Regions from separate parts of the Homo sapiens genome. Here region 1 is linked to region 2. The links come from fine-mapping of genetic effects on gene expression. A gene starts in region 2. The other region holds a variant in brackets. All regions are shown on one strand. Distances are between the middles of the regions. Region 1 holds the start of UQCRC1 (ubiquinol-cytochrome c reductase core protein 1). Region 2 holds the start of TREX1 (three prime repair exonuclease 1).

What was found.
Region 1: its variant is fine-mapped to the expression of TREX1 in whole blood (TOPMed, PIP 0.98).

The regions. Positions count from the first base shown.
Region 1 is chr3:48,606,378-48,621,509 of GRCh38, forward strand. UQCRC1 (ubiquinol-cytochrome c reductase core protein 1) reads right to left here and starts at 3,269. Exons shown (of 13, transcript NM_003365.3): 1 at 3,175-3,269; 2 at 2,785-2,925. The coding sequence starts at 3,243. TMEM89 (transmembrane protein 89) reads right to left here. Exons shown (of 2, transcript NM_001008269.3): 1 at 15,086-15,132; 2 at 14,382-14,650. The coding sequence ends at 14,465. RefSeq lists a silencer at 2,890-2,989 and enhancers at 3,160-3,259, 3,339-3,853, 3,550-3,659, 7,369-7,868. The variant T/C (reference allele first, on the strand shown) is at 5,647.
Region 2 is chr3:48,461,433-48,472,324 of GRCh38, forward strand. TREX1 (three prime repair exonuclease 1) reads left to right here and starts at 4,798. Exons shown (of 2, transcript NM_033629.6): 1 at 4,798-4,877; 2 at 5,198-6,213. The coding sequence starts at 5,224. The coding sequence ends at 6,168. It overlaps ATRIP (ATR interacting protein), which reads left to right. Exons shown (of 13, transcript NM_130384.3): 9 at 2,313-2,449; 10 at 2,609-2,700; 11 at 3,150-3,230; 12 at 3,399-3,651; 13 at 4,055-6,213. The coding sequence ends at 4,122. It overlaps SHISA5 (shisa family member 5), which reads right to left. Exons shown (of 6, transcript NM_016479.6): 4 at 8,296-8,411; 5 at 7,929-8,141; 6 at 6,444-7,754. The coding sequence ends at 7,675. ATRIP-TREX1 (ATRIP-TREX1 readthrough) reads left to right here. Exons shown (of 15, transcript NR_153405.1): 9 at 1-13; 10 at 2,313-2,449; 11 at 2,609-2,700; 12 at 3,150-3,230; 13 at 3,399-3,651; 14 at 4,055-4,877; 15 at 5,198-6,213. RefSeq lists enhancers at 4,024-4,113, 4,726-5,607, 5,194-5,393, 5,608-6,487, 6,629-7,395 and 1 more.

The sequences.
Region 1 (15,132 bases), 150 kb after region 2:
CTGAACACCAAACAGTGTTGCCTTGGCACCCAATAAGGTAATATTAATTTTCTTGACAGCCTCCTGGTTGCTGTGAAACACGCACCACAGGCTGGGCGCGGTGGCTTATACCTGTAATCCCAGCACTTTGGGAGGCCAAGGCAGGTGGATTACGAGGTCAGCAGTTCGAGACCAGCCTGGCCAATATAGTGAAACCCTGTCTCTACTAAAAATACAAAAATTAGCCAGGTGTGGTGGCACGTGCCTGTAGTCCTAGCTACTTGGGAGGCTGAGGCAGAATTGCTTGAACCCAAGAGGCAGAGGATGTAGTGAGCCAAGATCGTGCCACTGCACTCCAGCCTGGGTGACAGAGAGACTCCATCTCAAAAAAAAAAAAAAAATGTAAAAGAAACACGTACCACTCACCCCACTTGGTCACACGGTCTAGTCTTTTAATTTACTATTTGTTCACAGCTGATTTAAGTTTTTCACATCTACTTTCCTAAGTACTTTTTTTTTTTTTTGACATGGAGTCTCACTCTGTCACGAGACGAGTGCAGTGGTGTGATGTCGGCTCACTCAACCTCTGCTTCCTGGGTTCAAGTGATTCTCCCGCCTCAGCCTCCCGAGTAGCTGGAACTACAGGCGTGCACCACCACGCCCAGCTAATTTTTGTTTTTTTGTGTGTGTGTGTTTTTTTTTTGAGACGGAGTCTCGCTCTGTCACCCAGGCTGGAGTGCAGTGGTGCGATCTTGGCTCACTGCAAGCTCTGCCTCCCAGGTTCATGGCATTCTCCTGCCTCAGCCTCCCGAGTAGCTGGAACTACAGGCGCCCGCCACCACGCCCGGCTAATTTTTTGTATTTTTAGTAGAGACGGGGTTTCACCGTGTTAGCCAGGATGGTCTCAATCTCCTGACCTTGTGATTCGCCCGCCTCGGCCTCCCAAAGTGCTGGGATTACAGGCGTGAGCCACCGCGTCTAGCCTAATTTTTGTATTTTTAGTAGAGGCGGGGTTTCACCATGTTGGCCAGGATGGTCTCAATCTCTTGACCTCGTGATCCGCCTGCCTCGGTCTCCCAAAGTGCTGGGATTATAGGCATGAGCCACTGCGCCCAGCCAAGACTTTTTTTTATTGTATAAATTTATGGGGTACAAGCACAATTTTTAGAAATTTCTATCCACACCTGAAACTCCATTTTTTTCTTTTTTTTTTTTTTTAAGACAGAGGGCCTTGCTCTGTCACCCAGGCCAGAGTACAGTGACATAATCATGGCTCACTGCAACCTCTTATTCCTGGGCTCAATCGATCCTCCTGCTTTGGCCTCTCAAAGCCCTGGAATTACTGGTGTAAGCCACTGTGCCCCGCCCACAAGTGTGATGTCATTACAGGCACAGAATGCACAAGTAGTCAAATCAGGGATTCTGAATTATCCATCACCAGAATAACAAACCTTGTACCCATTAAGTAATTTCTTTTTTTTTTTTTGAGATGGACTCTCGCTCTCTCACCCAGGCTGGAGTGCAGTGGCTCCATCTCGGCTCACTGCAATCTCTGCCTCCCGGGTTCAAGCGATTCTCTTGCCTCAGTCTCCCCAGGAGCTGGGATTACAGGCGTGTGCCATGCATGGCTAATTTTTGTATTTTTAGTAGAGATGGGGCTTCACTATGTTTGCCAGGCTGGTCTTGAACTCCTGGCCTCAGCTGATCCGCCTGCCTTGGTCTCCCAAAGTGCTGAGATTACAGGTGTGAGCCTCCAGGCCTGGACCCATTAAGTAGTTTCTCATCATCCACCCCTTCATCCTTCCAAGTCTTCACTGTCCATCATTCCACTCTCTACATCTGTATGTACGTATTTTTTAGCTCCCACTGATAAGTGAGAACATGTGATATTTGCTTTCCTAAGAGATGTCAATGCATATACCATATATCACACAATCTTAGATGAACATGTATTTCACATCTAACATCTTGGAATGCAAGAGGCATTTTACAATCTATAGTATCCTTTGATTAAAATTGGCAAGATTCTTGAGATTCTTTCTCTGGCACTGGAGCACAGACAGCTCCTTACAATCTAGCACATTTTAGAGTTCATGTAATATAGCATTCTTTACTATAACAAGTGACATATAACAAGGAAGTTGCAGGCCACCTTTTCCTATGCTTAGTAACAATTTAAATCGCAGGACATTGTTTCTGGAAAACTAAAAGGATGTGTCAATAAAAACATCTGGCCCTGGGGCTGGGGGCTGAAAGGAGGAGGAGATAATTATTTCTTGGGAATCTTCTCACCTATTCATATATCTATCTGTGACTCAAGATTTCTTGTGTCAATTTAGAGAATTTGTATTTTTTGGAAAATCACACATTTCATTGTACTGTTAAAATGCATTTGCTTCCTAAAATGTATTTCTGGTCTAGCCTGGAGATTATGACCTTGGGCAGTGAGGCTGACAGACCTGGACCCCTGCAAGTCACCTAAGGTGTCTGAATCCCATTTTCCGCATTATAAGAGGAGACATGATCACTTCCCTTATATGGGCTCCTTAACAAAAGGCTGGAAAAGAATTTGGCCGCCTACTTAACGGGCATTATATGCTAAATAATGTTGGCTTATAGTGAAGATTGTCCCGTGAAGCCAAGGCGTGGCTAGGGTAGGGAATGGGGCCATTCTCGGGGTGAGTGGTCCTGGGTCCGAACCCAAACCACAAACGGGAAGACTCGAGCCCAAGGTCACACCCCAACCAGGGAAAAGACGGCAGGCCCAACCTGGAGGCCCTCTCCCCAAAAGCGTCCCCAACTCACCGTGCAAGTGGGCTGAGAGGACTGCTCGGAGGCCACACGCAGGCCGTTGTCCAGCAGGCTAACCTGCGTCTCCGGCACGAACTGGAGCGCCTGAGCGAAGGTTGCCGTACTCCGCAAGGCTGGCGTCCGCAGCAGGGCCGGCTGTGGAAGGGAACAGCCGCGAGTGAGGACTCGGTCAGGGGATCGCTCCCCACCTCCCAGGTCCTCAGGAGGACCCCCGAACCCCGCCCCTAGGCAAGCGGCGAGATACCTTTCCCCGCCCTCCGCCGTGACCTTCCCACGGCCCTGACCCCGCGTCCTCCCCACCTCGACCTGCCACTGCTAACAGCCCACACCTGTCCGCTTCCCGAAGCCCTGTCCCGAAGCCCCGCGCTCTCGCCACCACCTCACCGAGCGGCGGGCGCGCAATAGCACTTGTGCCCCGGCGGTAGCGGCCCGACAGACCACGGACGCCGCCATCTTCCAGCTGCAGTCGGCCCTGTTGCGCCGCGCAAGCGTAGACTGGGCGCGTTGGCGGTCGCGGCGCAGGCGCAGTACCGTACAGTTGGTGCTCGGCCGCCTCCTGGCGGGAACCGGGACAGTCTATTGTGCTGGCCTGGCTTTGGCTGACTGGCTCTGACCGCGCTGCCGCCAGTCCCTGCGCACATCAGTCCACCTGCCGTCCATCAGCCCGAGCAGGTCCGCCCGCCGTGCAGTCCATCTCCCCATTCCACGCGTGGAAGTCAGAGTGCATTATGTTTCTCACCAGCCGCGCTGCGTACTGAGGTCTGGCGGGCGGGGAGTTGCAGCCACAGCGTGTCCGCAGGTTCGAGCCCAGGGCTAAAGTACCAGCGTGGAAACTTACCTGGGACCACAAGTTGGTGCTGAAAGTCAGTATTTTTTTCTCTTTATTTATTTTTTATTTTCTGAGACAGGGTCTCGCTCTGTCGCCCAGGCTGGAGTGCAATGGCGCGATCTCGGCTCACTGCAACCTCCGCCTCCCGGCTTCAAGCGATTCTCCTGCCTCAGCCTCCCGAGTAGCTGGGATTATGCCCGGTAATTTTTGTTTCTTTAGAAGAGACAAGGTTTCTCCATGTTGGCCAGTTTTGCGCCCTGCCAGTTTTCTCTTTAAAAGAACTAAGTACAGGCCGGGAGCGGTGGCTCACTCCTGTAATCCCAACACTTTGGGAGGCCGAGGCAGGTGGATCACTTGAGGCGAGGAGTCCAAGACCAGCCTGGCCAACATGGTGAAACCTTTCCTTTTCTGTAAGAGGAAAAAGAATTCTGGCTGGGTGCAGTGGCTCATGCCTGTAATCCCAGCACTTTGGAAGGCCGAGGTGGGCGGATCACCTGAGGTCGGGAATTTGAGACCAGCCTGACCGACATGGAGAAACCCCGTCTCTACTAAAAATACAAAAGTAGACGGGCGTGGTGGCGCATGCCTGTAATCCTAGCTACTCCAGAGGCTGAGGCAGGAGAATCACTTGAACCCGGGAGGCGGAGGTTGCGGTGAGCCGAGATCGCGCCATTTCCAGCCTGGGCAACAAGAGCGAAACTCCGTCTCAAAAAAAAAAAAAAAAAAAAAAAAAGACTTCTAAGGTATGCTTTGTTATGTCAACTAAAGAAAAAAAAAAACAAGCTTTTAAATATTTAAAGTTAGTTCTATTCAGAAGTCTTACCAAGAATTGCAACCCGGGAGAGCCTTTCAGGGAGTTTCTGCTAGACTGCTCCAAAGCAGTGTTTCCGACAGTTTATACACTGGTGGTGGCGGCTCTCCATGTGCTCAGAAATTACATCAAATGTGCTCAGAAGTTACATTAGAGCATAAATCTCATCAAGGTTTGGGTGCAAGAGTACATCTGTTTATAGGTCACAGAAGCATAATCATTAATCCTGTCAGACAGTATCTTAAGTACAGGAAGAGGCAAGGGCTAGGATCATTGCATTTTTTACCATGTTGGCCAGGCTGATATCAAACTCCTGGCCTCAAGCAATCCACCCACCTCAGCCTCCCAAAGTGCTAGGATTACAGGGGTGAGCCACCACACCTTACCCAAAAACTACTCTTATACTTAAAATAAAACTATCTTTATAAAAATCATGCCAGATGCCATGACCACAGGCTCTCACACCACACCCAGCTAATTTTTTTTTATTTTTTGTGGAGACGGGGGTCTCATTATGTTGCCCAGGCTGATCTTAAACTCCTGAGCTCAAGTGATCCTCCTACCTCAGCCTCCCAAAGTGCTGGGATTACAGTCATGAGCCACCGTGCCAGGCTGACTTTATTTCTTATAAAGGGTTACAACCTGCAGGCTGGGAGGTGGGCTTCTGGTCAAAACCAGAGACAGACCCTTAAAAAGAGGCAGGAGCTTTATGTCGAATGGCTTGGCTAAACATACATATTCGGCCGGGCACGGTGGCTCACACCTGTAATCCCAAACTTTGGGAGGCCGAGGTGGGCGGATCACAAGGTCAGGAGATTGAGACCATCCTGGCTAACATGGTGAAACCCCGTCTCTACTAAAAATACAAAAAATCTGCCAGGCATGATGGCATGTGCCTATAATCCCAGCTACTCGGGAAGCTGAGGCAGAAGAATCGCTTGAACCTGGGAGGCGGAGGTTGCAGTGAGCCGAGATCGCGCCACTGCACTCCAGCCTGGGTGACAGAGCGAGACTCTGTCTCAAAAAAGAAAAAACAAAAACAAAAAATACCATATTCAACAGGTTACAGGAAGAGCTATAGATACTCATGAAGGGGGTCCTAATGCAAGTATACTGAATAAACATGTGTGTTGTATATGACCCATGTTCACTTTGGGGTGGAGACTTAACATTGAAATACATTACAGGCCGGGTGCGGTGGCTCACGCCTATAATC[T/C]CAGCACTTTGGGAAGCCGAGGTGGGTGGCTCACGAGGTCAGAAGATCAAGACCATCCTGGCCAACACAGTAAAACCCCGTCTCTACTAAAAATACAAAAATTAGCTGGGCGTGGTGGCGTATGCCTGTAGTCCCAGCTACTCAGGAGGGTGAGGAAGGAGAATCACTTGAAACCGGGAAGCGGAGGTTGCAGTGAGCCAAGATCGCACCACTGCACTCCAGCCTGGGCTACAGAGGGAGACTCCATCTCAAAAAAAAAAAAAAAAAAGAAAAGAAATACAATTAGCACCATATGTCAAAATGAAGGATACAAAAGCACTCAGTGCACAGGTTCCATAAACCAACTGAAGCCAGTCCCTGGTCAGTGGTCTCTTATTAGGAAAAAGTCACCAAAATCCATCTCTTGTGCAATCAAAGCTATAGTTATGGCTTGTGGGGTCAGTGTCTGGTGATGGATGAACTGCAATTGTTTCTATATTGCTTATCTCAAGGCCAGTGCTTGTTTAGCTGCTGGAGAAAAAGAAAAACCTTGCAGCAGTTAGAACATAGTTTATTCTTTGGTGAACGGCTTAACTCTTGCCTGGCATGGCCTTAATGTCTTGTTTATACTTTGGTATCTTATTGCTACAAAGGGTTCATTCTCTCAGTCTTATGATCTCTATTTTTTTCTTTCTTTTTTGAGACAGAGTCTCATTCTGTCACCCAGGCTGGAGTGCAGTGGCAGGATCTCTGCTCACTGCAACCTCCATCTCCCAGGTTCAAGCAATTCTCCTGCCTCGGCCTCCCGAGTAGCTGGAACTGCAGGCACATGCCAACATCGCTAATTTTTGACAGAGTCTCATTCTGTCACCCAGGCTGAAGTGCAGTGGCGTGATCTTGGCTCACTGCAACCTCAGCCTCCTGGATTCAAGCAATTCTCCTGCCTCAGCCTTCCAAGTAGCTGGGACGCCACACGCCACCATGCCCTGGCTCAAGTGATCCTTCTACCTCAGGCTCCTGAGTAGCTGGGAACACAGGTGCACACCATCATACCCAGCTAACTTTTATATTTTTTGTAGAGACAGGATTTCACTATGTGGCCCAGGCTGGTCTCAAACTCCAGGCTCAAGTGAGCCTCCTGCCTTGGCCTCCCAAAGTGCTGGGACTACAGATGTGAGCCACCGCCCCTGGACGTGATCTCTTTTTTTTTTTTTTTTGAGATGGAGTCTCGCTCTGTTGCCAGGCTGGAGTGCAGTGGCATGATCTTGGCTCACTGCAACATCCGCCTCCTGGGTTCAAGCGATTCTCCTGCCTCAGGCTCCCAAGTAGCTGGGACTAAGGCATGTGCCACCACACCCAGCTAATTTTTGTAGTTTTAGTAGAGATGGGATTTCACCATGTTGGCCAGGATGGTCTCGATCTCTTGACCTCGTGATCTGCCAAAGTGCTGGGATTACAGGCATGAGCTACCACGCCCGACCTTTTTTATTTTTGAGACCGAGTTTCGCTCTTGTTGCCCAGGTTGGAGTGCAATGGCGCAATCTTATCAGCAACCTCTGCCTCCCGGGTTCAAGCGATGCTCATGCCTCAGTCTCCCGAGTAGCTGGGACTACAGGCATGTGCCATCACGCCTAGCTAATTTTGTATTTTTAGTAGAGATGGGGTTTCTCCATGTTAGTCAGGCTGGTCTCAAACTCCCAACCTCAGGTGATCCACCCACCTTGGCCTCCCAAAGTGCTGGGATTACAGGTGTGAGCCACCGCACCCGGCCTGCCTGCTTCCTTTCCTTCCTTCCTTCCTTCCCTCCCTCCTTCCTTTCCTTCCTTCCTTCCTCCCTTCCTTTCTCTCTCTTTCTTTTTTTTTTTTGAGAGGGTCTGGCTTTCTGTCACTCAGGCTGGAATGCAGTGGTGTGATCATGGCTCACTGCAGCCTCAACCTTCCAGCTCAAGCCATCTTCCCACTCCAGCCTCCTGAGTAGCTGGAACTATATAGGCATGCACCATCACACCCAGCTAATTTTTAAAAACATTTTTCTAGAGATGGGGTCTCACTATATTCCCCAGTCTGGTCTTGAACTCCTAGGCTCAAGTGATCCTCCCACCTCAGCCTCCCAAATGAAATATTCCTAAACCCAGTCACCTAGCCTCCCTACCTATACCCACTGCTACCCTGGGCTAAGAAGGGAAGGCCATTGAAGTAGGAGACAACTAGGAAGTCTGATGCTGGTTGGGAACGATGCGTTTCAAGGGGTTGGTCAAAACAGGAAATATTACTAAAAGGTTAAGTGCAAGCAGTGATCATTGCAATAATTTTGCAACAGTGTTTGGTGACTCATTGATTCTCTGGAATTTACTTGGTATATAGAGTGAGGTAAGGTCAAAATATCCTCTCTCCCCCTAAAAGGCAAACTAAATTTTGTAACACCGTTTCTTGATGAGGCCCTGTTTCCCTACCCATCTCTGTTGTTCCCTCTATCATCCCATAGATTCTCAAACTTGTACCAGGTCCATGCAGGCTGTGTTCTGTAGGGAGGGCTCTGGCACTCAACTTACCCTTCTTACTCTGTTTGATACATTCACCTATTTATTCTTCTAGATGTTTCTTTTTATTTTTTAAATTTACTTTTAATTTTTTTAAATAGAGATGGGATTTTGCCACATTACCCAGCTTGGTCTCGAACTCCTGGGCTCAAGTGATTCTCCTGCCTTGGTCTCACAAAGTGCTGGGATTACAGGCATGAGCCACTGCACGCAGCTTTTTTTTTTTTTTTTTTTTTGAGACGGAGTTTGCTCTTGTTGCTCAGGTTGGATGGAGTGCAGTGGTGTGATCTAGGCTCACTGCAACCTCCACCTCCTGGTTCAAGCAAGTCTCATGCCTCAGCCTCCCAAGTAGCTGGGATTACAGGGGCCTGTCTCCATGCACAGATAGTTTTTGTATTTTTAGTAGAGACAAGGTTTCACCATCTTGACCAGGCTGGTCTCGAACTCCTGACCTCAGGTGATCCGCCCACCTCAGCCTCCCAAAGTCCTGGGATTACAGGCGTGAGCCACCACGCCTGCCTGTTCTATTCATTATTGAAAGTGGGGGGTTGAAATATGAACTATAATTGTAGAGCTGACTACTTTCAATTCTGATAATTTTTGTTTCATTATTTTTGGGGCTCCGTTAGGCACATAAATGTTTCTAATTGTCATATTGCCTTGTTTTGAAACTTTTATTAGGTGGGTGGATCACCTCAGGTCAGGAGTTCAAGACCAGCCTGACCAACATGGATAAACCCCGTCTCTACTAAAAATACAAAATTAGTAGGGCATGGTGGCGCATGCCTGTAATCCCAGCTACTCAGGAGGCTGAGGCAGGAGAATTGCTTGAACCCGGGAGGCAGAGGCTGTGGTGAGCCAAGATCATGCCATTGCACTCCAGCCTGGGCAACAAGAGCGAAACTCTGTCTCAAAAAAAAAAAAAGGCTGGGCGCAGTGGCTTACGCCTGTAATCCCAGCACTTTGGGAGGCCAAGGCAGGAAGATCACGAGGTCAGGAGACAGAGACCATCCTGGCTAACACAGTGAAACCCCGTCTCTACTAAAAATACAAAAAAAATGCCGGGCGCGGTGGCTCACGCCTGTAATCCCAGCACTTTGGGAGGCCGAGGCGGGCGGATCACGAGGTCAGGAGATCGAGACCATCCCGGCTAAAACGGTGAAACCCCGTCTCTACTAAAAATACAAAAAATTAGCCGGGCGTAGTGGCGGGCGCCTGTAGTCCCAGCTACTTGGGAGGCTGAGGCAGGAGAATGGCGTGAACCCGGGAGGCAGAGCTTGCAGTGAGCCGAGATCCCGCCACTGCACTCCAGCCTGGGCGACAGAGCGAGACTCCGTCTCAAAAAAAAAAAAAAAAAAAAAAAAGTACAAAAAAAATTAGCTGGGTATGGTGGCAGACACCTGTAGTCCCGGCTACTCAGGAAGCCGAGGCTGGAGAATGGCATGAACCCAGGAGGCAGAGGTTGCAGTGAGCCGAGATTGCGCCACTGCACTCCTGCCTAGGCGACAAAGTGAGACTCCGTCTCAAAAAAAAAAAGCAATTTTTATCAATAGATAACGTCCTTCTTTGTCTCTTGTAATCTTTTTGATTTAGAGGCTACTATACCTGACAATAATAAAGCCACCTTGACTCTCTTCTGGTTGCTATTTGCATGAAGTATTTTTTTTTCTTTTTCTTTTTCTTTTTTTCTTTCTTGAAACAGAGTCTCACTCTGTTGCCCCAGGCTAGAGTGCAGTGGTGTGATCATGACTCACTGCAGCTTTGACCTTCCTGAGATCAGGTGATCCTCCCACCTCAGCCTCCGGGGTAGCTGGGACTAAAGGTGCACACCACCATGCCCAGCTAATTTTTTGTGTTTTTTGTAGAAATGGGGTTTTGCCTTGTTGCCCAGGCTGGTCTCAAACTCTTTAAGCAATCCACCTGCCTCAGCCTCCCAAAGTGCTGGGATTACAGGTGTAAGCCACCATGCCAGGCCATAAAATATTTCTTCCATCCTTTTACTTCTGGTGTTTTTATGTTCTTATATCTGAAGTGAGTCTCTGATAGACAACATATAGATTAACCTTTTTTAAAAAACCAATCTGAAAATTCATTTATTAATAGGAGAGTTTAATCTATTTATATTTAATGAGATTACTGACAAATGATTTGCTTTCAGGTTCAGAATTTGTTTGGTCCCTTTAAAATTTTTCTCTGTATTAATTTTTTTTTTTTTTTTTTTTTTGAGACAGAGTCTTGCTCTTTCACCCAGGCCACAGTGCAGTGGCACTCTTGGCTCGCTGCAAGCTCTGCCTCCCCAGTTCATGCCATTCTCCTGCCTCAGCCTCCCGAGTAGCTGGGACTACAGGTGCCCACCACTGTGCCCGGCTAATTTTTTGTATTTTTAGTAGAGATGGGGTTTCACTGTGTTAGCCAGGATGGTCTTGATCTCCTGACCTCGTGATCCACCCACCTAGGCCTCCCAAAGTGCTGGGATTACAGGCATGAGCCACCGCGCCCGGCCCTCTTTATTAGTATTCTTTATGTTCAGACATAATTTTCCTAATTTCCTTTAGTTCTTTGTCCATGGCTTCCCTTAGTTCATTGAACATACTAAGACAGTTGATTTATTGTTTTTGATTAATAATTCCAATGCCTGGGCTTCCTGAGGGATACTTCCCATCACAATCTCTTTTTCAGCCAGGTGCAGTGGCTCATGCCTATGATCTCAGAACTTTGGGAGGCTGAGGTGGGAGAGTCATTTGAGTTCAGGAGTTTGAGACCAGGGCAACATAGTGAGACCCTGTCTCTCTTTTGACTCCAGCCCACTTCCCCTCACTTGGAGGACATCAGAGAGGCTGTGGCATTTTCGGGGTCCAGCCAAAGGGAAGGTGGGTTGAAGATGGTCCCAGGTTGGGTTCTCTAGGAATCCAACTCCAAGAGGAAGATCAGAGCACAAGATATTTACAAGAGTCCCTTGAGATGAGCACCTCAGGGAAGGAGGGAAAGGGTTGGGCAAGGAAGAAGTCTGGCTATAGGGGCTCTGCCACAGCCAGAGTGGACCTGTCTGCTGGCCGTCCCCTGAGTGGCTGGCAGCAGCTGGCCTTTGTGTGGCATATCTCTGAGTCTACCACAGGGACACACTGGGTGTTATAAGTAAAATGTTTATTCAGAAACAGAATGCTGTTCTTCAGTACCGCAAGGAAAAATTAGCATTGAGACAAAAAGTTTTCTCAGCAAGGCAAATTTACTTTCTGCAGAAAGGGTGCTCCTTGCAGATGAAACAATGGTGAGAGCACACTTGAACAAAGGAGGGAAGCAATTTTTATTCTTTATGCAGCTTGTCCTTGCTACTGTGTCCTGCCTCCATTGGCTGGAGACGGACTGCACAATCTAAGCTAAACTTGACCGGCTAATAACTTAAAATTTTCTTAAATAGGTAAAGGCAAGGGAGAACAAAGGAAAAGAGGAAATTGCTTACGAAAGGACTTAGAAGGACTTAGAAAAGTAATAACATTTCTTTTTTTCTTTTTTTTCTTTTTTGAGATGGAGTCTTGCTCTGTCGCCCAGGCTGGAGTGCAATGGCATGATCTCGGCTCACTGCAAGCTCTGCCATGGGTTCACGCCATTCTTCTGCCTCAGCTTCCGGAGTAGCTGGGACTACAGGCACCCACCACCATGCCTGGCTAATCTTTTTTGCATTTTTGGTAGAGGCGGGGTTTCACTGTGTTAACCAGGATGGTCTTGATCTCCTGACCTCATGATCTGCCCGCCTCAGCCTCCCAAAGTGCTGGGATAACAGGCGTGAGTCACTGCACCCAGCCAAAAGTAATAACATTTCGAAATAAGGAAGGCACATAGGCTGCAAGCTGGAATGTGCCTGTGAGCATGTCCAGCACAAATATTTTGGTTAAAGTACAAGGACACAGAATGTACTTATTTCTTTATATCTAACAGCTACATAAGATAGGGCTTAACAAAGAGTTATTAGCACAAAGTGAGGAGGCTTAAAGGAAGTTAGTCTTTAAAAGAAACTATTATTTGTAACACTTATAATTTATTCTTTAACAAGAAGGGAAACTTTGAAGAGGAACTTTTTTTTTTTTACTTTCTACACCAGGTTAAGAGGGACATATTTATGTGGTTTGCTCCACCCTTGTGTAAAGTTAGTTTATTGGTCTTGTTCTAGAATAAACTAGGAATGTGGCTCGTAGGAAAATCCTGCTGGGTAAGGACAGAAGTGCAAAGTCCTATTGCCTTAAGGACATGCCCCACGGCACCCAGTGCTGGGAAAACTGTGAGCCATGGAAGGAAAACAAGGTTTGAAATGCGTGGAGCCAGAACCTCGTCTGTGGAAAATTCTTCCAAATTTCATAGTTCCTATATGAAAGAAGGCTGATGACAGTTTCTCAAATTTTACAACAATCCAGAACATTTGTATGGCACCGTCAACAACAGATTAGGAAGTTTAACTTTCCTAAACTACCAATAATTAAAACACAAATTTCAACCATGTTAGGAGGAAGACTGAAGTATCTTTTCTCTGTATGGAAAATATCTCCCCCAAAAATCACAAAATCCTTGTCCTCTGTAGAGGCCTTCAGAGTAAGAAGCCAGACCATGTAGGGGACCAAGGTATTAGAAATATGTCAGGAAGTTGCCACAAGTTATGTTATTTTTCTGGATTTAGTATTGTAGTATTTGTCAATTTAAAAAAAAAGTTTTCAAAAAAAAGTATCATCATTTCTTTTCTCATTATTTTAATTCACTTCCATTTTTGAATTCATAACGTTGTTGCCTTTTTCTAAAGCAGGAACCTGGGACAGGCACTGTGGCTCATACCTGTCATCCCAGCACTTTGAGAGGCAGAGGCAAGAGGATCAGTTGAAGCCAGCCTGGGCAAGATAGACTCCATCTCTACAAATATATATATATTTTTTAATTAGCTGGGTATGGTGATGTATGCCTATAGTCTCAGCTACTTGGGAGGCCAAGGCAGGAGGATTGCTTGAGTTCGTCAAAAAAACAAAAAGAAACAATTTTTAAAAAGGGGAAAAAGAAAGAGAAAGGGATTAAAGTGAGGGTCCCTTCTTTTCCAGGGTCCTTAGAGCAAGGGCGGCTGAGGCACTAGAGCATGTTTGAGACTGCCATAGAAACAAAGGCAGCTAGGGCGGCCTGCCTGACCCCAGGTTGGGGCTGCTGGAGCCAAGAATCTGGGGAGGGGCTGTTATTGGAGACAGAGCAGTGGCCTCTCAAGGGAGGGCCTTGCAGGGCCTGGGAAGAAGGAAGCCAGAGCCAGCTGCTGTTTGATGGCAGGACTAAAGTCACCTCCCTGAGGTGGTGACAAGGATGGGTGAAGCCAAAGGGTGTGCGACTCCACAGTGATGGGGGCTTGGGGCTCTCAGTCCCCCATCAGAGATCCTCAGCATCTGGTTCCAGCTTCACCACTGCCCCCACCCCTCTTCTCAGCTGACCAGGTCCCTCCTCAGCTCACCCTGTGCACTGGAGAGGCCCAGTACCCTCACTCAGCACTTGAGGCCCTTTATCATGTGCACTGCCCACCTTGCCCATGTGCAGAGAGTACCAAACACAGCACGTGGCTTTTGCTCAGAACCAGACCGCCACCTGGATTTCCCTTCCTCACACCCATTTCCCCTCAGGGCTCAGCCAGGTTGTTGGCTCCTCTGGGCAACCCTTCCTGAGCCACCCAAGCCTGTCCCGTTGGTAAGTCCTCTCCCATCACACAGGGAGTCCCCAGGTACTGGTCAGGCCAGAGGAGCAGTTTTTGTTTGTTTTGAGACAAGTTCTTGCTCTGTCACCCAGGCTGGAGTACAGTGGCACAATCTTGGCTCACTGCAACCACTGCCTGCCAGGCTCAAGCCATCCTCCCACCTCAGCTTCCTGAGTAGTTGGTACTACAGGCACACACCACTATGTGTGTGCTCAGCTAATTTTTGTTTGTTTGTTTGTATTTTTCGTAGGGATGGGGTTGCCATGTTGCCCAGGCTGGTCTCGAACTCTTGAGCTCAAATGATCCTCCCACCTCGGCCTCTCAAAGCGCTGGGATTACGGGTGTGAGCCACCACGCCCAGCCCAGAGGAGCAGTTGTGTCTCCAGGAGGGATCCTTAGGGAGGAAAGGTCAGTTGGTGGGGGCAATGGAGCAGTGTGAGCCAGCCTATGCCCCACCTGCCCGCCCGTCCTGGACACCAAGTCAGCTGACTCTAAAAGCTGAAAAGGGACACACGGTCCAGACAGGCCTGGAAAGAGCAGACCTGGCCCAGGACCTCAGGCTGTCAGGCAAAGAGAGGCACATGTTCGGTCACCCACTCTGGGTGGAAGTCCCCTTTATTTGGATTTGCCGCTGGGTGGCTAGATGACGTAGGTGGCCTTCGATGTGGACCAGGAGGGCATCCAGCATGTGCAGGACCCCACGGAGCAGGGTGTGGTCTGAGATTGGGGCCCGCCGTTTCCAGGGTCCGCAGGGCTCAGTGGTCACCTGCGGATGCTGAGACCAGGACCAAGAGGCAGGAGTGAGAATGGTGGGCAGAGAGGGAGATGTGACAAGGGGCAGTGATGGAGCTGGGGAGCAGGGAGTAGGGTGTGGGGCAGTGCCCAGATGGGATGGGAGGGAGACTCAGGGTGATAGAGGATCACCGAGGGTCTGTTGTGGGCTACAGTGGTCATGGGGCCCACAGGGGCTGGATGAGAGCAGGGGTACTAAAGGGGAGAGTTGGGGGCAGGGTGCTGGCTGTGGGTGGTGGACATGGGTTCCACGAAGGTGTGTGGACACAGGGACAATGGGCTGTGAGCTGGGGGTGGGGGTGTGGGAGGTCCACAGGCCAGTGTGGACCCATGGGGCAGGGTTGGGTGGAAGACGGGCTCACTGAGCGTACGTATATTGAGGCAGGGGCTGTGGGGGAGAAAGAAGAGCTGTGCTCACCTCACCCTTGGTGGCCTGTGAGCGCCGCCGCCCCTGCAGTATCTTGC
Region 2 (10,892 bases):
ACTCTACCAAAGGGTCAGTTTCTATGTTGGAATGATTCCACTGGCTGAATATATCTTAAATCATCTCATCTCTGAGCTCAGCACTGCTGTTTCCTAGATCTGTTTCCATCTGAATATTTTTGGTTGGTCTGGCCCATGCTAAAGGTGGTACTCAGCTGGACACAGCACTGCAGTGTAGTGTGGGCAGTGGGATCAGGCAGACTCAGGACTCAAGTGCCCAGCAGGGGCCCAGCTCATAGTGGCTGTTTTTTTTTGTTGTTGTTTATTTGTTTGTTTTTGTTTTTGTTTTGAGACGAAGTTTTGCTCTTGTTGTCCAAGCTGGAGTGCAGTGGTGCGATCTCGGCTCACTGCAACCTCCACTTCCCAGGTTCAAGCAGTTCTCCTGCCTCAGCCTCCTGAGACGCTGAGATTACAGGCACCTGCCACCACACCTGGCTAATTTTTTATATTTTTAGTAGAGACAGGGTTTCACCATGTTGGCCAGGCTTGTCTCAAATGCCGGACCTCAGGTGATCCACCTGCCTTGGCCTGCCAAAGTGCAAGGATTACAGGCGTGAGCCACCGGGCCCAGCCTTGGTTATTTGTTTAATAATTGTTAAATGAATGAATCCCAGGCTGGGCACAGTGGCTCCTGCCTGTAATCTCAGCACTTTGGGAGGCCAAGGTGGGAGGATCACTTGAGCCCAGGAGTTTGAGACCAGCGTGGGCAACAAAGCAAGACTCCCAGCTCTACAATTTTTTTTTTTTTAATTAGCCAGGCATGGTGGCAGTGAGCTATGACCATGCCACTGCACTCCAGCCTAGGTGACAGAGTGAGACCCTATCTCAAAGAATCCCAGAAACCATGTTTTTACTGGTGGTAGACACACCATTATTCCACTCCTGTTGAGCTTGTCCACAGGGACATTCAAAACACAGCCACAGCTGGGCATTTATCTATTTCATGTACTGGGGCTCTTCATAAAATTTCATTTAAAGAGGTTCTTAGGGGCTGGGCATGGTGGCTCACGCCTGTAATCCCAGCACTTTAGGAAGCCGAGGTGGGTGGATCACGAGGTCAGGAGATCGAGACCATCCTGGCTAACATGGTGAAACCCCGTCTCTACTAAAAATACAAAAAAGTAGCTGGGCGTGGTGGCAGGCACCTGTAGTCCCAGCTACTCGGGAGGCTGAGGCAGGAGAATCGCTTGAACCCTGGAGGCGGAGGTTGCAGTGAGCTGAGTTTGCGCCACTGCACTCCAGCCTGGGTGACAGAGCGAGACTCAGTTTCAAAAAAAAAAAGTTCTTAACGCTATCAAAAAATAACTTGGAAACCACTGTGGTGTACATAAAAGTGGATTTTCCTTGCAGTACCTTCTGCAAGTGGCAGATATTGGACATCTTACAGCCCAATAATGAAACCAGGTAATAACCATGTTAAAATTCCAGCTTCCCACAAAGGGCTGCACACCCTGGCAACTAAAAAGCATTGAACTTTTTGTCTGCTGTGCAGGATTTGCCCTAAAGTGAGTTCACCCCACATAGTGAGACCTTGCTTCCTAAGGACACACTGAGGGATATCTTGACCTTCTGTGCTTAGAAACTGCAGATGTCTGAAGGGGTACACACCTGGCCAGACCCCATAGAGTGTTTCAGAATTGCCCTCCTCCCCACCCACCAGGCCAGTCCATCGTGCTCCCCCAGGCTATGTGGGTTGAGCAAACAGCAGCAGTTGCCTTGGGGCTTGGTTTATTGGGGTAATAGCTTTCCTTTTGCCCCTGAGACCTGGGGCAGTATGCCCAGAACCCCTCCCTCCTGCACACCCCACAGTAGGCACATTCTCCCACTGGCAGCAGATGTGTTTTCTGGCAAGTAGAGAAAATGGCTTTCCTTGCCCTGTGAGAGGTCTCATAAGATCCAGCCATAGCCAAGGCCATGTTTGTCACCTCTGGAGGCCTGGTCAGTCCTTCTGTGGGCACAGAACATTTCTCTCCCACCTAAGTTAGGACCTGCATCCCTGTTTGGGAGCATGTGGAAGCCAGGCATCCCAGATCCAGGAGGTCATCCCACTTCCTGGGCGATGCTACACCAGATAAGGGCCTGTCCTCTCAGCTGCAGCAGTCTTGCAGTGGAAGTGCCCACTTGTTCACATGAAACAAGTTTCATAGCAAGTAAGTAGGGGTCAGGCCAGCACTGAAACCCAAGTCTGGCTGAACCAACTCACCTGTTCATACTGACTTGCTCAATTTTCTGTTACCTCTAGTGGAGTGTGAAGGTAGGTTATGGAGCTGGGGTTGGGGAGTGTCACGTCTCTCTGGGTCCCTGTCTTTTAGGTTCCAGTGTGTGTTCCAAGTGCTGCCAAAGTGCCTCAGCCCAGAGACACCCCTGCCTAGCGTGCTGCTGGCTGTTGAGCTCCTCTCCCTGCTGGCGGACCACGACCAGCTGGCACCTCAGCTCTGTTCCCACTCAGGTAAAGCAGGGTGGGGCGGGCGTCTAGACTGCTCCTGCAGATCAAGGGAAGGGTTGGGGTGGGAACAGGGTCAAGGGCCTCAGAGGGCTTCTGCAGTATGTAGCCCACGCTCTTTATGAGAAAGGGCACCCTGAGTGAGAGGTGCGCTGTCCTTTTCAGAAGGCTGCCTCCTGCTGCTGCTGTACATGTACATCACATCACGGCCTGACAGAGTGGCCTTGGAGACACAATGGCTCCAGCTGGAACAAGAGGTAAAAACTCCAGAGCCCCTTCTGGACACTGTCCCCACCCCATCCTAAGAACCAACAGAATCTCCTTTCTTTCCGCTGAGGAGAAACGGAGCTTTAATTCATTTTAGTAACAAGAGTTGATAAAGCAACTAAAGAGGTAAACTCAGTTTGGGGGCTGTGCACCACACAGATGCAATGCAGACAGGACTTGGCAGAGTTGCCTGATGACTGATCCTGTCTTGGCTTTGGGACGTGGGGGCAGAATAGGGGGCTGGAGGCAGGTGGGTTGCTGGTGACACATGAGTGCTTGTCCTGGGTCTTCCCTGGGAAGGTCCCACACCACTTCTTGGACCCCATTTGTGCAGACAAACAGTTGCTGAAGCAAGTGAACTCTTATAGAAGCTTAAGAAAACCCTCGCAGGGACTGGTCTCCTTCTGCCCAGGATGGAACCAATCTGTTCTTGTTCTAGGTGGTGTGGCTCCTGGCTAAGCTTGGTGTGCAGAGCCCCTTGCCCCCAGTCACTGGCTCCAACTGCCAGTGTAATGTGGAGGTGAGTGGGTAGGGGCCAACAGCTGGCAGCTCTGGTGGTAAGGGGGCCCCGTGCAAGGACTGTAGGCCCCACTGCAAACCCCCTCACGTGAGGTGGCTAGGCTGAGCGGATTGTTAGGGTGCAGGCCATGGTGGCACCAGGCCTCAGTCTGCACCCCCCCTCTCTCAGGTGGTCAGAGCGCTCACGGTGATGTTGCACAGACAGTGGCTGACAGTGCGGAGGGCAGGGGGACCCCCAAGGACCGACCAGCAGAGGCGGACAGTGCGCTGTCTGCGGGACACGGTGCTGCTGCTGCACGGCCTATCGCAGAAGGACAAGCTCTTCATGATGCACTGCGTGGAGGTCCTGCATCAGTTTGACCAGGTGATGCCGGGGGTCAGCATGCTCATCCGAGGGCTTCCTGATGTGACGGACTGTGAAGGTAAGCCTGCCAGAGGCCATCCTGCCCAGCCCCCATGGCTTCTTCCAGAGGTTCCCCAACAAGTCAGATTCCTGGGTGTCCCCTCAGCAGGCCCCCGCCCACTGCAGCCTGTTCCAGCACTGGGGCCATTTTCTTTTATCTTCCTGCCTCAGTTCTTCTCCAAGCATATTGGGATGCCTTTTGCATCTATCTGTTGAGTGTGCCTGGCAGAGCCACGGTTTTTCCAGAAATAGCCGTGTCTGAATTGCCTTTGTATCACTTTGTTTGCAGTAGCTGAGGGAGCAGGGCCTGGGTGTGGAAGGGACTGGTTAGTTCCTGCGGACGTTGGGGGAGGAGAGGTGGGACCTGCCCTAGGCCCTGGCACCTTTGGGCCCTCACCAGGAACCTCTCCTTTTTGTCTCAGAGGCAGCCCTGGATGACCTCTGTGCCGCGGAAACCGATGTGGAAGACCCCGAGGTGGAGTGTGGCTGAGGCCCTGAGTGTCCAGCCACATGGTGGCACCAGCACCACTCCTTTCCTTACCACATCAACTGATTAAAGCAGTGACCAGCAGGAACTGCCCAGAGAACTGGCTGGCCTTGTTTCCTGAGTCTGATCTGTTTGGCGGAGTGGGAGGGGTGGAGCAGGACCCGGACCCTGAGTGGCTGGGATCCTTCTTCCTGTCCCTGGCTGTTGCTGAGCCCGTCCCCATGGTAACTGATCTGCCTTGAGGAAGGAGCCCTGCCCTGCCTGTGGAATTGTCCTGAGTCATTGCTTTGGGCTGGGGCCATGGGAAGAAACCATTGTGTGGCAGGGAAGGAGGTGGCTCTTGGCCCAGGCCTAAACCAGGAAAGCCTGGGAAACTGGGACCCACAGGTGGGCATGAAAGGGCCGCAGCAGGGGCTCCCAGCAGTGTGTAAGACCGGGAGCTGGTCTGGCACCACTGCCCTGGTCCTTCCAGCTGCCTGTCACTGGTATGATGGCCCCGGTGCATTGTGCCACCAGCAGGCCACAGCTGTGGATCTTGGAAGGCCTCTGGGGTCCCCCGGGAGCAGGGGAGTGGGTGTGGGGGGGAACGGATGGTGGTGAGAGGGACAGACCAGGCAGGCTGACGAGCAGGGCGGGCCTGGCTCACGTGGGCCTGTAGGCGGGCCCACGCCAAGTTTCACTTCCCGCCACTGCTGCCAGCGAGAGCCGCGGGAGAGTGTGCAGCCGAGTCACTACTGCCTGCCTGCCTGCCTGCTACGGTGAGTGTGGCCCCCACAATGGGATGGCGCAGGGCAGGAGGGCCATGGGTTCCCCCACCCCAGACTAAGGGGGCACTAGGGGAGGGGCCGAGTCATGTGAAGAGGGAGACCCTCTCAGACAGTCGAATGTGCTGGTCCCACTAAGGAAACCACCTCACCCTCTCCAACTTCCTGCCTGAAAATGGGCCCTGGAGCTCGCAGACAGGGCAGGATTGTGCAGGGAAGGCCTGAGATGTGCTTCTGCCCACCCCCTACCCCACTCCCTCCCCTTCGGATCTTAACACTGGGCACTCACACACCCACCCCATGCTCCTCTCCAGGCTCAGCAGCAGGTACGTACCCAACCATGGGCTCGCAGGCCCTGCCCCCGGGGCCCATGCAGACCCTCATCTTTTTCGACATGGAGGCCACTGGCTTGCCCTTCTCCCAGCCCAAGGTCACGGAGCTGTGCCTGCTGGCTGTCCACAGATGTGCCCTGGAGAGCCCCCCCACCTCTCAGGGGCCACCTCCCACAGTTCCTCCACCACCGCGTGTGGTAGACAAGCTCTCCCTGTGTGTGGCTCCGGGGAAGGCCTGCAGCCCTGCAGCCAGCGAGATCACAGGTCTGAGCACAGCTGTGCTGGCAGCGCATGGGCGTCAATGTTTTGATGACAACCTGGCCAACCTGCTCCTAGCCTTCCTGCGGCGCCAGCCACAGCCCTGGTGCCTGGTGGCACACAATGGTGACCGCTACGACTTCCCCCTGCTCCAAGCAGAGCTGGCTATGCTGGGCCTCACCAGTGCTCTGGATGGTGCCTTCTGTGTGGATAGCATCACTGCGCTGAAGGCCCTGGAGCGAGCAAGCAGCCCCTCAGAACACGGCCCAAGGAAGAGCTATAGCCTAGGCAGCATCTACACTCGCCTGTATGGGCAGTCCCCTCCAGACTCGCACACGGCTGAGGGTGATGTCCTGGCCCTGCTCAGCATCTGTCAGTGGAGACCACAGGCCCTGCTGCGGTGGGTGGATGCTCACGCCAGGCCTTTCGGCACCATCAGGCCCATGTATGGGGTCACAGCCTCTGCTAGGACCAAGCCAAGACCATCTGCTGTCACAACCACTGCACACCTGGCCACAACCAGGAACACTAGTCCCAGCCTTGGAGAGAGCAGGGGTACCAAGGATCTTCCTCCAGTGAAGGACCCTGGAGCCCTATCCAGGGAGGGGCTGCTGGCCCCACTGGGTCTGCTGGCCATCCTGACCTTGGCAGTAGCCACACTGTATGGACTATCCCTGGCCACACCTGGGGAGTAGGCCAAGAAGGAAAATCTGACGAATAAAGACCCCCGCTGCCCCATAGCACTGAGTGGTCAATTGGCTCCTACCCTTCTTGGCAGCACAGACCTCTGCCCACACCCAGGGACCTGGGGAGGAGGGCACAGTGTTTGTCCCTCACTTTCCCTAGCAGGATGGTCAACTATCTGAGCCCAGTAAAAGTAGGGAAAACACAGAGAAGCCCAAATGGATGGAAAGAGTACAGCCTGATTCCAATTCCAGCAGCCGAGGCCAGGAAGAAAGGGGGCAGCAGCTCCAAACGATTGCATTTATTATAAACAAGTGTACAGACCCTAGACTCAGAAACACAACAGATTTGAGCTAAGACAGCTCTGGTGAAACAGTAATAGAGGGAGGAGGAACACGAGGTATTCATGTCTGGGCCAGAGCTGCCATCCAGGGCCCCACACCCCACCTTTGGTCCAGATGGCCCATTGGCCCAGGTGTCCCTGCTGCCAGAACACCGTGGACTGGGGTACAGGAGTTGTTGCATATTCCATGAGGCTGGTGTCGGGAAGCAGGGACTCACAGTTGCCAGGTTGTCCATCTCTGAGCCAATTTCCCTCCACAACCCAGGGGTTTCAGTCTCATATCAACTATCATGTTTGAAACAGAAAACAGGCAAAATGTTTGGCTAAAATAAAATGAAAACACTGCAGGGAAGAGAACTGAGTGTGCTGGTGGACAGGAGCCCTGCTCACCTGTGGGAAGGGCAGGGCCAGCAAGGGCAGCAGAGCTCCCTGGGGGCAGCTAGGCTGTGTGTGCATGTGGCCCTCCAGCTGGTCCCAGGGGAGATGCGGGGACAGGGGACAGTCCAGGCAGACAGGTACAGCTGAGTAGGGCTCTGCCTGAGGTGTTCTGGCATCAGGAGGCTGCCTGATCCCCAACAGGCATGACAGGCTCCAGGGAGCAATGGGACATCTGCCCAAAGGATCAAAGTCCAACTTGGCCAGATCCCAAGCTTCGCCTGCATCATGTCCCTGGCTCTGCAACGGGTACCCCCAACTCCGGGGACGAGCCATGGCCTCAAGCAGCAGCTGGCTACGCTGCCGAAACCAGGACACATCTGCATCACACAGAAAGCTGCGCCACCCTGGTGTGACAGGCCCTACTTGGTCACCCTAGGGTAAGCTGGAGAAGAACTCCAGATGTGCCCTGGAGAGGCCCCCACCTCTCAGGGGCCACCTCACAGGGTGCCCCCCACCACCCCATTCTTTGAGTTTGGCTTGAGATTTTAGGAAGCATAATTTCAGGTGAGGAAGAGAACAAAGTCTGGTCCCAGCCCACTCTGGCAAGGATTGTTCCCCACCTTGTCAGCATCAGAGGAAGCCACATATACAGGCAGGACACACACAGCACACATGGGGCGTAAGGAACCGTGCCTGGACACACACAGCACACATGGGGCGTAAGGAACCGCGCCTGCACACCACTCACGCACACACACAACATAACCAAGTGGCAGCCAGAGAGGCCAGGGAATGCTCAGAGGGCCGCCTTCGGGGCATCCATGTAGGCCGGGTTGTAAGGAGGCTGGCTGGCGGGGTAGGGCGCGGCTGCTCCTCCTGAAAGCAGAGAGGACCCTGGTTGGCTGTGAGCATGGTGGGCTGCCGTGTGAGTGGCAGGCAAGCAGAAAGGGGCAGAGGCCTGTTGAGTGATGTAGTTTGGGATGGGTGCCCGAGGGATGCTGGCAGAGACTCGGGAAGTCGGGCAGGGCTAGAGTTGGCAGGGGCACTCACCAGCCAGGGTCTCGTGGTAGGCCGGTGGGCCCATGGGCTGGGCTGGGTAAGGTGGTGGGTACTGCATTGGGTAGGGTGCTGCTGGCATCCCTGGCTGAGGCGGCATGGTGTGGTAGCCCTGGTAGCTTGGTCCAGGGTAGCTGGGCGGCACACTTGGAGGCTGAGGATAAGGGGCATGCACCACAGTGGTGGATGTGGTGGTGGTGACAACCGCTGCAAAGAGAATTCCAGTCAGGACCCTCCTCCATCTCCCCAGGTCTTGAGAGCCAGGCTTGCCACCCATCCCTCCAGCTTAGCCAAAGCAGGGCCTGGTCAGCTTCCCTTACCACCCCAGGGGGTCACAGTGGGGCAGGGTGGGCACGCTTACGACGTGGTCGGCGGCACGTCTTGTAAAGGCAGCAGCAGGAGCAGGTGAAGCAGATGATGATAGTGACGACAGACAGCACAAAGATGGTCAGGCCAACGGCCAAGGTCGCTCCGAACCTGCCAAAGAGCTAGACGTGACCCGGGGCACCTCGCCCCTCCCCAGACCAGCATCCACACCTTCCCAAGGCATGCCCCTCTTGCCAGAAGGGGTCTGGGCAATACAGTTATAGCTACTTCCTTGTCGGGTGGCCTGCACCTGTTTCAATCTGTTTCCTCTTGTGTAAACTGGGGTATATGTGAGTCCCTGTAACTGTCTCTCCCTGGGTCTCCCCCGCTTGTCCCACCCTCAGAGGCATGGGAGGAAGCTCTTCAAGTCCCATGCCACACACATACATCTATCTTGTCCACCTCACAACCAACTGATCAGCAGATGGGTATAGGGCACATGCCACAAGCCAGGCACTGTGATTTGAGTCAAAAAACTTAACAGTGGGCAAGACAGCCAGCCCTGGCCTCTGGGAGCCCACAGTCCAGTGTAGGAGGCAGACAGTGAAGATAACATGGCTCACAAAGCACAGGGTGAAGACTGAGAGAAGCCCCAGGAGGGCAGAGGCCAGTGTGGCCAGAACAGGAGGCCCCCATTGTTCCCCTGCACTCCACAACAGCCCCAGGGCAGGGAGGCTGGCCCCTGAGTGATAAGGACAGTTGCCTCTGCCTGCAAGCTTGCTGTATGCCAAGCACCGTGCCAGGGGTCACACACACCCCTGGGTCCCCCACCTCTGACCTGCATGGCCACTTCCACAGGTGAGAGGGCCAAGAGCCAAGGGGAGGACACAGAGGCCTGGAGGCAGGAGGCCAGAGGGCCTGCCCTTTGAGAAAGCAGGCCCTGGGCTGGGAAGCTCACCAAAATTGACTTCTAGGAGGGGGCAGTGGCTCATGCCTGCAATCTCAGCACTTTGGGAGGCCGAGGAGGGCGGATCACCTGAGGTGAGGTGTTCGAGACCAGCCTGGCCAACATGGTGAAACCCTGTCTCTACTAAAAATACAAAAATTAGTCGGGCACGGTGGCGGGTGCCTGTAATCCCAGCTACTTGGGAGGCTGAGGCAGGAGAATCGCTTGAACCCGAGAGGCAGAGGTTGCATTCAGCCAAGATCACGCCATTGCACTCCAGCCTGGGGACAGGAGCAAAACTCTGTCTCAAAAATGAAAGAAAAAAAAAAAAACCTGACTTCCAAATGCAGACAGAGCCCCTTACTAGCCACCCTGCCGTGTTTGCAGAGGCCAAGCTTCATTCTTTTTCTTTTTTAATTTATTTTTTGAGACAGGGTCTCACTCTGTTGCCCAGGCTGGAGTGCAGTGATATGATCACAGTTCACTGCAGCCTCCACCTCCCAGGCTCAAGTGATTCTCCCACCTCAGCCTCCCCAGTAGCTGGAACCACAGGCATGCACTACCACATTTATTTTTGCAGAGACAGGGGTCTCACTATGTTACCTAACTGGTTTCCAACTCCTGGCCTCAAGCAATCTTCCCTCCTCGGCCTCTCAAAGTGCTGAGATTAAAACTGTCTCGTGGCCAGGGTGCGGTGGCTCATGCCTGTAATCCCAGCACTTTGGGAGGCCGAGATGGGCGGATCACAAGGTTAGCAGTTTGAGACCAGCTTGGTCAACATGGTGAAACCCCGTCTCTACTAAAAATTAGCCGGTAGTCCCAACTACTCAGGAGGCTGAGGCAGGAGAATCGCTTGAACCCAGGAGGTGGAGGTTGTAGTGAGCCAAGATCGCACCACTGCACTCCAGCCTGGGGGACAGAGTGAGACTCTGTCTCAAAAAAAAAAAAAAAAAAAAAAAAGTCAGCCTTACATTTTGTACTGGATGATAAAAGATTTTAAAAAATAAAAAACGGTTGGGTGCGGTGGCTCACACCTGTAATCCCAGTACTTTGGGAGGCCGAGGCAGGTGGATCACCTGAGGTCTGGAATTCGAGAAAGTATAAAAAAAATTAGCCGGACATGATGGTGGGTGCTTGCAATCCCAGCTACTTGGGAGGCTAAGGCAGGAGAATCTCTTGAACCCAAGGAGGCAGAGATTGCAGTGAGCCAAGATCACACCATTGCACTCCAGCCTAGGCAACAAAAGCGAAACTCCATCTCAAAAAAGTAAATAAATAAAAAATAAAAATAAAAAACTGGCCAGGCGCGGTGGCAACACTTCTAGAGGCCGAAGTGGGCGGATCGCTTGAGGTCAGGAGTTCTAGACTACCCTGGCTAACATGGTAAAACCCTGTCTCTACTAAAAATACAAAAATTAGCAGGGCGTAGTGGCGCAAAACTGTAGTCCCAGCTACTCAGGAGGCTGAGGCAGGAGAATCGCTTGAACCAAGGAGGGAGGTTGCAGTGAGCTAAGATTGTGCCACTGCACTCCAGCCTGAGCAACAGTGGGAGACTCCGTCTCAAAAAATTAAAAAATAAAATAAATAGGCCAGGCGCAGTGGTTCATGCCTGTAATCCTAACACTTTGGGAGGCCGAGGCAGGCGGATCGCCTGAGGTCAGGAATTTGAGACCAGCCTGGGCAACATAGTGAAACCCCATCTCTAC